4 separate regions of the Homo sapiens genome follow, and regions 2, 3 and 4 are each reported to be linked to region 1. Evidence: microRNA targets listed by miRTarBase, many of them from high-throughput screens and not tested one by one. Region 1 holds a microRNA gene; each other region holds the end of a gene's coding sequence.
What was found. Region 1 holds the annotated microRNA hsa-miR-579-3p (UUCAUUUGGUAUAAACCGCGAUU, at 1,881-1,903, shown strand). A microRNA usually pairs through its seed, bases 2 to 8, with sites in the 3' UTR of a target mRNA and lowers its output. Matches are read on the target gene's strand: a 7mer-m8 pairs with bases 2 to 8, a 7mer-A1 pairs with bases 2 to 7 and ends in A, and an 8mer does both.

Region 1 (3,000 bases):
CAGTTACAGTTGACCCTTGAACAACATGGAGGTCAGGGGCCCCTCACGCAGTCAAAAATTTGCCTGCCTTTTTTTTTTTTTTGAGATAGGGCCTTGCTCTGTTGCCCAGGCTGGAGTACGATGACATGAACATGGCTCACTGCAACCTCCCGGGCTCCAGTGATCCTCCCACCGCAGCCTCCCAAGTAACTGGGACTACAGGCATGTGCCACCATGCCTGGCTAGCTTTTGTATTTTTCTAGAGAACGTTTCACCATGTTGGCCGGGCTAGTCTGAAACTCCTGGCCTCAAGTGATCTGCCTTCCTTGGCCTCCCAAAGTGCTGGGACTCCAGGCTGCTTATAACTTTTGACTCCCTAAAAACTTCTAAAAGCCTACTAATGACCAGAAGCCTTACTGATAACATAAACAGTTATTTTTATGTTAACACATTTTTGGTATGTCATGTATCTCATATATACTGTATTCTTAGAATAAAGTAAGCTAGAGAAGAGAAAATATTATTGAGAAAATATGAAAATCAAAATATTTACTATTCATTAAGTGGAAGTGGGTCATCATATAAAGGTCTTCATCCTCATCATCTTCAAGTTGAGTAGGCTGAGGAAGAAGAGGAGGGGTTGGTCTTACTCTCTCAGGGGTGGCAGAGGGAGAAGAAACTCAGCAGCATAGATGTAAGTGTATTCATATACTTCAAACCCCTGTTGTTCAAGGGTCAAATGTAAAGTAAAATTAAATATCCATTAGTTTTTCTAAGGATTTCATGACTTTTTGTTGGTCAGCACTAAGTTACATACTTTTTACATAATTTTTATTAATGTATTTTGAATCTTTTCTCTGATTTACCTTAATTATATTGATTTTACTCTCTAGTGGGAAACTTGCAACTAAAAGCCTCCGTGATTAAAGAATAAGTGTAATTGTATGATTAAAAATACATGTAGATTGTTTTGGGGCTGCTGTTTTTTAAATGTCTTATTTATATTAATAGAAAAAAGTAAATCCAGATTTGCAAGTAGAAGTAAAGCCTAGTATTCGAGCAAGAAAGATTCAAGAAGAGAAAATGAGGAAGCAAATGCAGAAGGAGGAGTACTGGCGAAGACGAGAAGAAGAGGAGCGTTGGAGAATGGAAATGAGGTAATATCTTTAACTTTTAATAGCCTGGTAAGTGGTTCAGCCTTTCTTAAAAACTTAGCCATTCTGAGCATGTGACTCCCATTCAAAGCAATCCAGATTTATTTACTTCCAATTTTCACTCTTGAGGAAGATCCTAGGTCTAGGAAAGACATGCATTAAAATTGTTACTGGCTATACTAATATTTTACTGTGGCCTTGGTATTAGAGTTATATGTTTAAGTGGCATCTTTTATAAATTAAACATATGAAGAAATAGTTTCATATTATAAATAAGTGCCTCGGTTTCAAACAAGCAAAATAGACATACATTTCCTGATAGAAGTATAAGATTTGATAGATTCTACATGTTAATAATGTCCATAAAGAAACTTTAGTGGCTACAGGGAAGGAGAATTGAGAAAACATATTTCAAATATTTGTTTATATATATATAAAGATACAAATGTTAAGTTTTATTGAAATATAACATATCTTCTAAACTTATACAGTGACAGAGTTGTGTAACAATCACCACAATCAATTTAGAACAGTTCATCACCCTCAAAAGAAATCACGTACCCATTAACAATAATTCCCCATGTGTCCCACATACCTAGTATCTCCCCCAGCCCCAGCCCTGGACAACCTCTAACCTTTCTGTCTCTATAGATTTGCCTATTCTAGAGATTTCATATAAATGGAGTCATATTAGGTTAATGCAAAAGTAATCGCGGTTTGTGCCAGATGACGATTTGAATTAATAAATTCATTTGGTATAAACCGCGATTATTTTTGCATCAACTTACTACAGTCTATGGTCTTTTGTGTCTGGCATCGTTCACTTAGCGTGTTTTCATGGTTCATCCAGATTGTAACATGTTTCAGTATTCCATTGTCTTTTATGACTAAATAATACTGAATAATACATCCTTATGTACCACATTTTGTTTATTCGTTCATTAGTTGATGGACATGCAACTTGTTTCCACATTTTGACTATTATGAGTATTGCTGCTGTGAATATTTTTGTATAACTTTTAAAATACAGTTTTAGCAGAAACATACCATACACGTATTTTCATAATCCACTTTTTTCATTTACATACCTTCAACTTTAAAAACTAAATTCGGATTATTTTGTTTTTCATGAGGACATAGTAATTTTTGTGCATATGTAAAATTTTCTTCATAACCAATCCTTGTTGTTATTGTTTAGATATTTAGGTAGTTTCCAGTGTTTCCTTATTATAGTTATTAATATCTTGACCCTCCTTGAGGCACTTTTTTGTTTCTTTCACCAAGTATGTGAACCTATTGAGGCGATATTACTGCATACATTATCGTTAGTTGCTAATAATAGAATATGGGAAATGGAAATGTTTGAAGGATGCTCACATGTCTGCCTATACTGGATAGCATAACTCAGTGGTTCTCAAACTTTTTGGTCTCAGGATCCTTTATCCTCAATTATCAAGGACTCCAAAGAGTCCTTATGTGGGTTATACCTGTCAAGACTTACTGTATTAAAAATTAAAACTGGCCGGGCACAGTTGCTCATACCTGTAATCCCAACACTTTGGGAGGCTGAGGTGGGTGGATCACCTGAGGTCGGGATTCAAGACCAGCCTGACCAACATGGAGAAATTCCCATCTCTACTAAAAATACAAAATTAGCCGGCGTGGTGGCGCATGCCTGTAATTCCGGCTACTCAGGAGGCTGAGGCAGGAGAATTGCTTGAACCCGGGAAGAGGAGGTTGCGGTGAGGCGAGATCGCGCCATTATACTCCAGCCTGGGCAACAAGAACAAAACTCCGTCTCAAAAAAAAAAAAAAATTTAAAACTAAGAAATTTAAATATTTGTTAATTCATTTTAAAATGACATTT
Region 2 (3,251 bases), not on the chromosome of region 1:
TGTTAGTTAATGAATAAATGCTTCTTGCTGTTTATTTTTAAAAGCTATTGAGATAAACCTATATTTTATTATTTTAATGGAAATAGTAAGGTTTTTGTGGTGTGTGAGTTCTTTTTCCCACGACAATTTGAGTCTGTGGCCCCTGGTAAAAAAATATCCCTGCTAGTTTGTTTTCAGTGGTAAAGCCTTGAGGCATTTTGAGAGCATCAGCACAATCCATGTGAGCTCCCAGTTGGAATTTTCATTCTTTTTAAGGAAAGTGGTCATCTCATGTATATTGACAAATACCCTTTAAAAATTCTTTGGCAGCTTAAGACTGGGTATGCAAGAGGACTTAGAGGAAATGAGACGTGAAGAAGAAGAAATGCAACGTCGAAGGGCCAAGAAGCTGAAGAGGCGTTAGCTGCTGCTTTTATTTTTGTGAAATTCTAGAGCTGCTCTGCTGCAAGGATTTCCTGCCTTCAGACTGAAGAAGCCCCCTTATCATTTTAGATTTATACTTGGGTACTCAAGGAGAAGGAATGCATACTGTCATTTGCAGGCTGTCATTTGAGCATAAAATATTTTCAGATATTTTCCAGGGTGAAATCTGTAATGCAGATGATATAATGCCCACTTGTGCTCTTATGAAGTTAACTGTTCACAGATGCCAGCCTTGATCCTGATGAGCTATGCACTCTAATGTGGGGCCACTCACCAGTCAGCCAATCTTTTATTGTTCCTTTGCTACTTTGAAAGGAAAAAAAAGGTTGTCTCTTGATTTCTGTAATTCTTCTGCTGATCTGTGAGTAGGGCACTGCCCTGCTCCCAATCAAACTTAGTCTTTTTATGAGAAACCTGGACCTTCCATGAATGTTGCCAGCAATAAAGTGACTTGTCCTAATCTATGGATTGAGAACTTGAAAATGTAGAGTAGAATTTATAACTATCATATGGATGTCATCCTGTGACTTTGAAGTACAAAGTAGAATAAATTCTGTATTCATGGATTGGATGCTGAGCATTCTTACTCATTAATTTAGGTGGCTAGGAATTAATGAAAAAATTTTCAAGTTAAAATACAGGTTATAACAGTATAATATTCTTTTCTAAGTTTTCCTTTCAGATTTACTGTTATGTTGGCTTTAGTGTAAGACAAGGTCACTGTGCTGATTGATTTTTATCTAAAAAAATTCATTTTTATATCGAAGAAAAAATATTTTATTCAAACATTAGATTTGAAAGAGTAATAGTTTATAAAATAAGGAAGTAACATGTGAGGCTCTCCCCTCCTCCCCTCCCCCATCATAAAGATATTTTGAAATCCCAAGGTGCCCTCATACCTCTTGACATTAATGACTTCATTTTTTAGCTTGAATTTGTTAGCAAATATTAATGGCAGAAAACCAAAAACTAAATTTATGGTATCGAGAGCACCACCTTCTCTTTTTGCCCATATTGCACTTTGATTTCAAACTATGCACTGTGAAGAGATTTTTTTCCCCAGGTAGGAAGGGATGTTCCCTGTTATCGTTATTTTACTGAGCTGTGGAAACTCATTTTTACCCTTTTTAAAGTCATAAATATGGACTTAATAGCCCTTAACCTTCAAGTCCAAGCAGTTCCAATCAGGCTGACTTAGGATCATGCTGGAAGGAAGCCAAGTCTCAAGAACTGTCAGCAACAGAAAATGAGATATGATGCTAGAGAGCATTTGTCCTTGACTGTAAGTACAGAGGCTTAGGGGAAGTGAGACATAAGCTTGTAGGAATAATAAACGTTCTACAATAAACGTTTTGGCTATCTTAAGCCATTGTATGGGGGGGATTAGGAAGTAGGAGGGATTGTCCTACAACAGGCCCTTATACTTCAACAGCCCAAATATTTTGGTTTATTCCTTTTTATCCATAAAGTCTTTATTCTTCAAGTTTGGGTATTATAGATTACCATTGTTAGCCTCCCTTAATGGGACCATATGAGCCAGGCTTTTAAGACGGACTCATTTTGAATTGAGTTTCAAACTTTGAAAGTGCAAGGATTTAATTTTTAAGTTGAATCCCATGAAAGGTGTCATCATCACTAGGAATAACACCCTTTGTAACTACATATAGAACTGTTACAATGGTAGCAGAAAATCCTATTGATTTCATCTCACCCATTTCAGATACCTTCAGTGAAATTAAGGGTAGTGTGATGTCCCATGTAATAAAACAGGCTTAGAACATCAATTCCTCTGCTGCCATTTATGTGCTTTTATTCCCCCTTCAAAAATTTTTTATTGGATATATATATTTTTCAGTATTCAGACTCTGAAATCTGTCATTACAATCAAGTGCTTGTCACAGCTGAAAGATTTCTGGTGGCTTAAAGTTTACTAGCAGTAAATTTATGATATGGTACAGTTCTTTGTACAGAAAGGCACCATTATGTTAGAATAAATTTCCAGAACTTAGTGGGAAGAATCAGGTTTTAACCTTGTGTGTCTGTTACTTCTGAGTGCATTTCTATAATATAAATGTTGATTTGCGTCAACATTATAAAAGAGCACTTCTGTGGCTCATTTAAAAGAAAAAAAAGGTTAAGTCTTTTAAATTTTGGCCTTGTTTCCAAATCCTGTCTTCCATGTTGTTTTTCTGCACTTCCTGACCACTCTTATAAAAAGCTCACAAACCTTTGAAGAAACTGGAGTAGGCTGTTATTTCATTAAGGTTTACAAATTAAATGCTTGATTTTTAATGTATTCTCTACTGTTTTGATTTTTGGATTTTCTTAATTCAACATTTGAAGATGTGCCTTTTGGGTAATGTTAATCACGAATGTAGTAATATTTCATGATTGTAATAATGTTACATGATCATGGGTGTGGCATTCTCTAACAAATGATGTGAAAGGAAAGTAGTTTTCATAAAACTCATGGCTCTGATTGCACAGTCCCACTTGCTTTTGATATTGCTATGTCAAAGCAAAGGGCACTTCTTTTAAGGCTACTTTCAGAACTTTGTATTTTCGCTAAACTATAAATGCAGTTGTGTCCAGTTGGAGGCCAGGGTACCACATGTCACAGGCGGCCTTACATGTGTGCCGTGAAAAGGTTCAAAGACCGTTAACAAAAAAGTAAGTCTGGCCGGGCATGGTGGCTCAAGCCTGTAATCCCAGCACTTTGGGAGGCCGAGGCGGGCGGATCACTTGAGACCAGGAGTTCGAGACCAGCCTGGCCAACATGGTGTGAGACCCCGTCTCTACTAAAAATAAAAAAATTAGCCGGGTGCGGT
Region 3 (3,215 bases), not on the chromosome of region 1:
TGGTTTTGAAATGTGAGGACATGAGATTTGGGAGGGGCCAGGGATGGAACGATATGTTTTGGCTGTGTCCCCATTCAAATCTCATCTTGAATTCTGACTCCCACAATTCCTACGTGTCATGGGAAGAACAGGGTGGGAGGTGATTGAATTATGGGGGCAGGTCTTTCCTGCTCTGTTCTCTTGATAGTGAATGAGTCTCATGAGATCTGATGAATTTAAAAGGGGGAGTTTCCCTGCACAAGCTCCTCTTCCCTTGTCTGGCATCATGTGAGACATTGCCTTTTACCTTCTGCCATGATTGTGAGGCCTCTCCAGCCACATGGAAATTTAAGTCCAATAAACCTCTTTCTTTTGTAAATTGCCCAGTCTCGGGTAGTCTTTATTAGCAGCGTGAAAACGGACTAATACACTCTGGTTCTAGTGACATTTCTGAGGAAGGAATGAACTGTTCCTTTTCAGTCTGATTCCAGCTTCAGATCACCATTGCACCCTGACCTTATCCATGGTGCTTTTTGGTCTAAGTAAAGCATTTCTCTAATAATACATTCAGGTTAAGCAACTATTACATTTATTGTCCTAATTTAGCATTAAGGTCTTTTCACAAAATACACTGTGATTTTGATACTATATGCCACTCTTCATCGGATCTTTCTGATGGCCAAGAGTTTCCTTAACTCTTGAAAAGCACATAAGTAAGTCTAGAGCTGGAACACATGAACATGAATACCTGAGCACATTTTCCAATATTTCTACCCCGACTGCAATAGCAGGAATTAGCATATGCAAGAATACAGCTACACATTTGCTGAAATCTAGTTAATTGAGAAATAATTTACTAAGATAAAATGGTTTGAGAATGGCAAACTCTCAAGGAATGAAAGACACTGAGAGCTCTGGAACTATTTTTGTGTAAGAAAAATAAAATCCTTTAATAATGTTCAAAATGAGAATTCAAAATGTATATATATAAAATATATGCACCAATTAATCTTTGTGTTAATTAATAGAAGCTTCAAAGTACTATAAAATTTAGTAGAATAGGTAACTTTATTTTAAATAACTTTCTTAACCCTGCCCATTAAGATCACAGTAAACATACAATAATTTTTATTATGGAAATTAATCTTTACATACAAAATCAGCTACGTAATTTTACTTACAAAACAATAAAAACTGTTCTTTACTGTGGCAACAAAAGAAGCATTTTGACAAATGAAAAAAATTAATGCAAACAAATTAAAACAATGCTTTTCTTTTTACTTGCTTCACTGTCTCTTCTATTTATTTTCTATGATCATTTGACACAAACATGGATTACTTTGATATCTACTGAAACATAAATGATAAGGTTCTTAAAGGTTGAATTAAAAGTCTGGGTGTTCAATATTTTAGAAGCTGAATAAACAAAACGAAATTGGGGTTTGTGATTACAGAGGATTTATCATTTTTTCCCTTTGCCCATATGAAAATATATAATAGAAAATTACCCACGGGAAAACATTTTTAAATTTAATGTTGCGTTCCTATCAAGTTTAATAATAATGCCAAGTTGGCAATTTAATTAATTACTTTCACTAAGGATTAATACTTTGTCTAGAATGGAGTAGAGGTAGACTGATCTTTTCGTATTCAAATATTTTAAAATATAAAGTTTAAAATGTCATAAGGAATTATATAAAATAGTATTTTTAAATATTTGAAATTTAATTTATAATTATATTCAAAATAATTAAATCCCTTTTTGATAAATAGTAAGTAAGTTGTTGCTTGAAATTCATTTGGTTGAAATGATTACTCTAAGGAACTCTTTTAGTTATTTTTAACTAATAATCTTTAGAAAAAAATGTCTATTTTTTAATAAGGGTTTCTAGTTTTGGAAAAAAGCTTCTAATGATTTAAATGCACTTACAGATGCTCCTACCACTGGAAAAGGCATCCTATCTGTTTTTCACACTAGTATTTACAAAGTATTATGTGACAGAGCAGCTGTTGAACTAAAAAAATAAAATGTACAAATGCAAACTGGGTCAAAGAAAAATCTTTGTATAAAATGCTTAGTTATTCCAATGTTAAATATGACTTATGCTTACTGGTAATAAATTGCATGTGTTCTCTCTCTTGTTAGTAGCTTGTTTTAGAAGAGAACACAGCAATGCATGGGCCACTCTAGCGTTCTTGTGCACCTGTAAAGGCATCCTTGCAGCCCCAACCAAAATCAATGTTTATTCTGCCAAAAATAAGAGCAAGGGCTTAGTAATAATTTTTCTTTTTTGTAAATTTCTGTATTTTAGTTTTGAAGTGCTTTCTATTTAAAAATAAAAAACATGATTTATTTTCATTTCTGACACAGAAGTGTTTCTTTTAAAAAAAAAAGACCACATTTTAAATTTCTGCTTAAATGTATATAAAGTATACATTTAAGTATACTGGCACTCGCAACAAATGAATCCTTCCCCAGGGATAAATGGATTGGAAAATTTGTTTTTCATTCAACATTTGGAAAGAGAACAAACCTGAAATATGTAATTTTTAAAATTATGTGAAAATAATGTGAAAAATTTCATATAGTATTTGTGTGAAAATCAGGTGGAAAAAAACTTCCATGAAGAACCCAATTTACAAAAATTCACATCTTTTTAAGATTTACATTTAATACAATACTACTGTTTTAACTGAATTGTGTGTGTATGAGGTGGTTTTTGCAGGGAGAGGGGAGTTGTATAGTGACTACTTTTTTGTGACCACTCACCTTCAACCTTGGGGGAAAATGCTTACTATATGACAAATGTAAATTAAGATCATTACTCTTCCGTCACAGATGATTTCCTAGATTTGAGAACAAGGTCTTTAATGGATGAAGAAAGTTCTTGAAGCTCTTTACGAGTAGTACTGGCAACATCTTCTTGTTCTTTGTCTAATTCATTATTCAAGGGATAATCTCCCTGCCCAGTCTTCTTACTTTGACTGACTAGCTGCTTTACAACCAAACCTTGATACTTTACCAAAAGAGCATGCTGATCCTGTGAAAAGGGAAAGAAAAGTTAATCAACACAATTTATCTTTTTGTGGAACAGATAAAGTAGAATTTCTTCAACTAATACACATTGAAGGTCCTCATCTTTACAAAAAACTGGCCATGTAAGTAGCAAGTCTAATCTAGCAGTTTCTGCTCTCAAGGAGTGTACAATTTAGGAGAGATAAAACATGAATGCAAA
Region 4 (3,251 bases), not on the chromosome of region 1:
AACAAGTAAAGTAATTGAAGAGAGAAGTAGAAATTTCAGGCAGATTCTTATACAATTTTATTGTCCCTTCTTCTAAAACTCCCATATTCTAGCCTTAAAAGATTGACCCCCGCAAAAAAATGACTTTGTATTTAAAAAGCTCTGGTAGAGAAATGTTAAAGTGTTTTAATTTTGGAGGTATTTTGCATTTCCTTACATTTATGTTTTTAATATGTATTTTGGTCTTTTTCTACAGAAAATGGATATTCCAGCTAAATTGATTGTTTGTGGAATGACATCAAATGGTTTCACCATTGCAGACCCAGATGATAGAGGCATGTTGGATATGTGCGGCTTTGATACTGGAGCTCTGGATGTAATTCGAAATTTCACATTAGATATGATTTAACCATAAGCAGCAGCACGATCCAGAGATCCATTGCCATCAGTGATCTCACTAAAAATATACAGCTACTTCCCAGCTAATCTCCACCCAATGAATGATGATGGTATAGTATGTGCATAATGGAAAGTTACCTTACTGAAAAAAAAAAAAGAAGGAAAAATAAGATGGGCCCAAAGGTCTATCTACTAAACTAGCTCTTGGGGAAATAGCTTCAGGATACTGTAGTTTCCTCTATCTAATAGAGAACTTTTTGTTAACAGACACTGTAAAATAGTTTTGCTTTGTTGAATAATACGTGTGTACCTAAAAGAGGTAAGAGCAAAAAGTGTAATTCCACATCATGTTACTTGAGAAGTGCTTAACGTTTTCTTAAATGTTTTCATTGGGAAAGGACAGCTTTGATAATGTCCAAATACTCTGAAATGCACTAGACCATATAACTGTGATGAAATATGAAACTCATCTGTAAACTTTTATACCAAGGGGGTAAAAAAAAAAACTAAGGCATTTGATTAAATTATGAATGAGTTTTACAAATTCCTTTCAGAGTTTTACTAAGATCACACAAATAACAGCTTTCTTATTCAGTGAAAAAGATATTTTATTTCTGATGTTTTATTTGCACTTGTGGAATATGTTACCATTAATCAGAAACATCATGGCAACCCCTAAGAATAGACTAAGTTTGTGTTGGCTGAGGGATTCTATTTGGTTTGCTTTTTTTTTTTTGCTTTGTTATATTTTATTGCTACAAGGGGTGTGACTTGATAATGATTTCCTCTGAATTATAATAACATAGCCAGATGTAGTCTCACACTGTTTTTCATACTCTTAAGTGTAAATAATATAAAATGTTTCAAGCGCTTAACTCCCCCTCATTCACAAAGTATAACAATTAAAATCTCAACTATAACCAGTTTAGCTTTTTCCTTACTTTTAAAATAAAATTTTTTACTTTTAACTATTTTTTTAGTTAATATTTTTAAAAGTATACATGTCAATGGCCTCTTTGTCCATTATTCATTTTGTGGCAAAATATTCTTCTTTGATAGTGTAAACAAATAATAAAGCAATCTAGGTCCTTTAGGTTTGAAAGGCAATTTTTGAGTAGCATATTACCAGCTAGCCAGTCACTAGGAATTTTTTTCAGTATTATTTGTATGTATTAAACTTTTCATTACACTAAAGTGCATTATTTTATTGAGCAAGTATCCTTCATTGTGAGGTTTAACATTAAAGCAATCTGTTGAAATGCCATTATCTTTGCTCATAATTTTATTATGGCCGTCTAAGGTAGCTTACACATAAAACCTGTTTGCGTATCTGTTGTTCTCTAAATATTAATTGAAGATTTACTGAGGATTTGTAAGGTCCTTCTCGCTGTTATGTGAAAAGTCAAACTGTAGTTAATGTAAATTATAGCCTTTTAGGTGCTTGGGGGTTAGAGGGTTTATGTTTTTTGGGAAAGGGGGACTTTAGTAGTCTGAGGATTTCTGTACATATTTTCTTCTGTTTTATGTGAAATTTGGGCTCTGGGAATAAGAAAATATTCCTTTCAAATTTATTTGACATATTAATGCTGGTTTTGATATGTACCCATTCCTTCAAGGCAACTGGTATCAGTTTTTAAGTGTGATTTACCTGAGATATTTTTGTTCAGCAAAGCTCATAGCACCCTCACCCCCACTCCAGACATGCATTGCTTCTGATGTTGTTCACGTTTTTAACCCTGTCAAGCATTGAACTGAATATATTAGCTACTTTTGACACATTAAAATATTACGTTCAGATTGAATTTAAAGTTTAAAGAAACTAATAGAATTACGTAATAGTTATTGAATTGTTTAAGTAAACCCAAGATCTTAAAAATTATAACATGATCATTTTATTCCTAATAGAAATGTTAAATAGAATATAGTACAAAAGTGCATTACCTTCAGTTGTGTACTATTTCCATAATACTTTTAGACAAATATATCTATAAGTTAATATTAAATCCATCAAGGATACAAGATTGGATGGATATGACCTTTCTGAAGTATTTAGGTAGGTCTAATTAAATGGACTAGGGTAACATTTAAGAAAGAAAGGATAAGTAGGAGAAGCTACCACAGAAGGTAACTTTTCAAATCATGGCATATTTGAGCTGGAAGAAACCTTAGAAACCTAAAAGCTAATTTTTTAAATTTTTGTTAGAGAGCTGAGGTCCAAGACAGAGTGTGATTTTGAAGTACTATAACCTAGAAATCTTGGTCTCTTCATTCCTGTGCCAGAATTTATTTCCCCACAACATGGGAATACATGGTCTCAGAAGAGTAGAGGATAAAATAAAATTATTTAAGACTTTTACCTTATTGAGTTATTAGGAAATAATGTATATACGATTGCTTTAGGAGTAGAAAAATAGAATGGGAACATGTATAATCTTGTAATTCATAGGAATCCTCAAGCACAATTAACCTGTGTTGCTATATATATCTACATATATAGAGAAAAAACAAAAACTTTACCTCATTATGAATAAAATGTACTGAAGTGATAAGTTTTTTATTTCCTGAGTTACTTTTAGGATTACTGTTAAATTAATATTTGGGAAAATACTGCTTTTAAAAACAATCCTGCAAGAATAAACAAACTTTATTTCCTAGGTAGTATGTAAATAGTTCCAGGATATAGTTGTAATTAGTAAAACAAAAACTAATCTTATAATCCCACCCTTTATTAGTTGAAAGTTCTTGGAAATTCCATTTATTAATACTTATATTATTTAGTAATCTATCTTATGAGAGTGTTAGTGAGGCAAGATGCTAGTGAATGGAATTTAGTGTTACCCTTTGACACCTCCTTTGCTTTATCTAACTTACTG

Region 2: miRTarBase lists SPTY2D1 as a target of hsa-miR-579-3p. Seed matches in the 3' UTR shown: 7mer-m8 at 2,856-2,862.
Region 3: miRTarBase lists UFL1 as a target of hsa-miR-579-3p. Seed matches in the 3' UTR shown: 7mer-A1 at 2,335-2,341, 8mer at 1,774-1,781 and 7mer-m8 at 1,295-1,301.
Region 4: miRTarBase lists RO60 as a target of hsa-miR-579-3p. The part of its 3' UTR that is shown has no 7-base or 8-base seed match.

The regions. Positions count from the first base shown.
Region 1 is chr5:32,393,295-32,396,294 of GRCh38, reverse strand. MIR579 (microRNA 579) reads left to right here and starts at 1,820; the gene lies at 1,820-1,917. ZFR (zinc finger RNA binding protein) reads left to right here. Exons shown (of 20, transcript NM_016107.5): 11 at 991-1,136.
Region 2 is chr11:18,607,013-18,610,263 of GRCh38, reverse strand. SPTY2D1 (SPT2 chromatin protein domain containing 1) reads left to right here. Exons shown (of 6, transcript NM_194285.3): 6 at 310-3,251. The coding sequence ends at 403. It also overlaps a transcript of MISFA not described here. Among named protein-coding and RNA genes, the nearest start is that of MISFA, 8.8 kb to the right of the region's middle. RefSeq lists a silencer at 1,528-1,822.
Region 3 is chr6:96,553,090-96,556,304 of GRCh38, reverse strand. UFL1 (UFM1 specific ligase 1) reads right to left here. Exons shown (of 19, transcript NM_015323.5): 19 at 1,029-3,020. The coding sequence ends at 2,802. Among named protein-coding and RNA genes, the nearest start is that of FHL5, 8.4 kb to the left of the region's middle.
Region 4 is chr1:193,084,344-193,087,594 of GRCh38, forward strand. It overlaps RO60 (Ro60, Y RNA binding protein), which reads left to right. Exons shown (of 9, transcript NM_001173524.2): 9 at 236-3,251. The coding sequence ends at 388. Among named protein-coding and RNA genes, the nearest start is that of GLRX2, 19 kb to the right of the region's middle.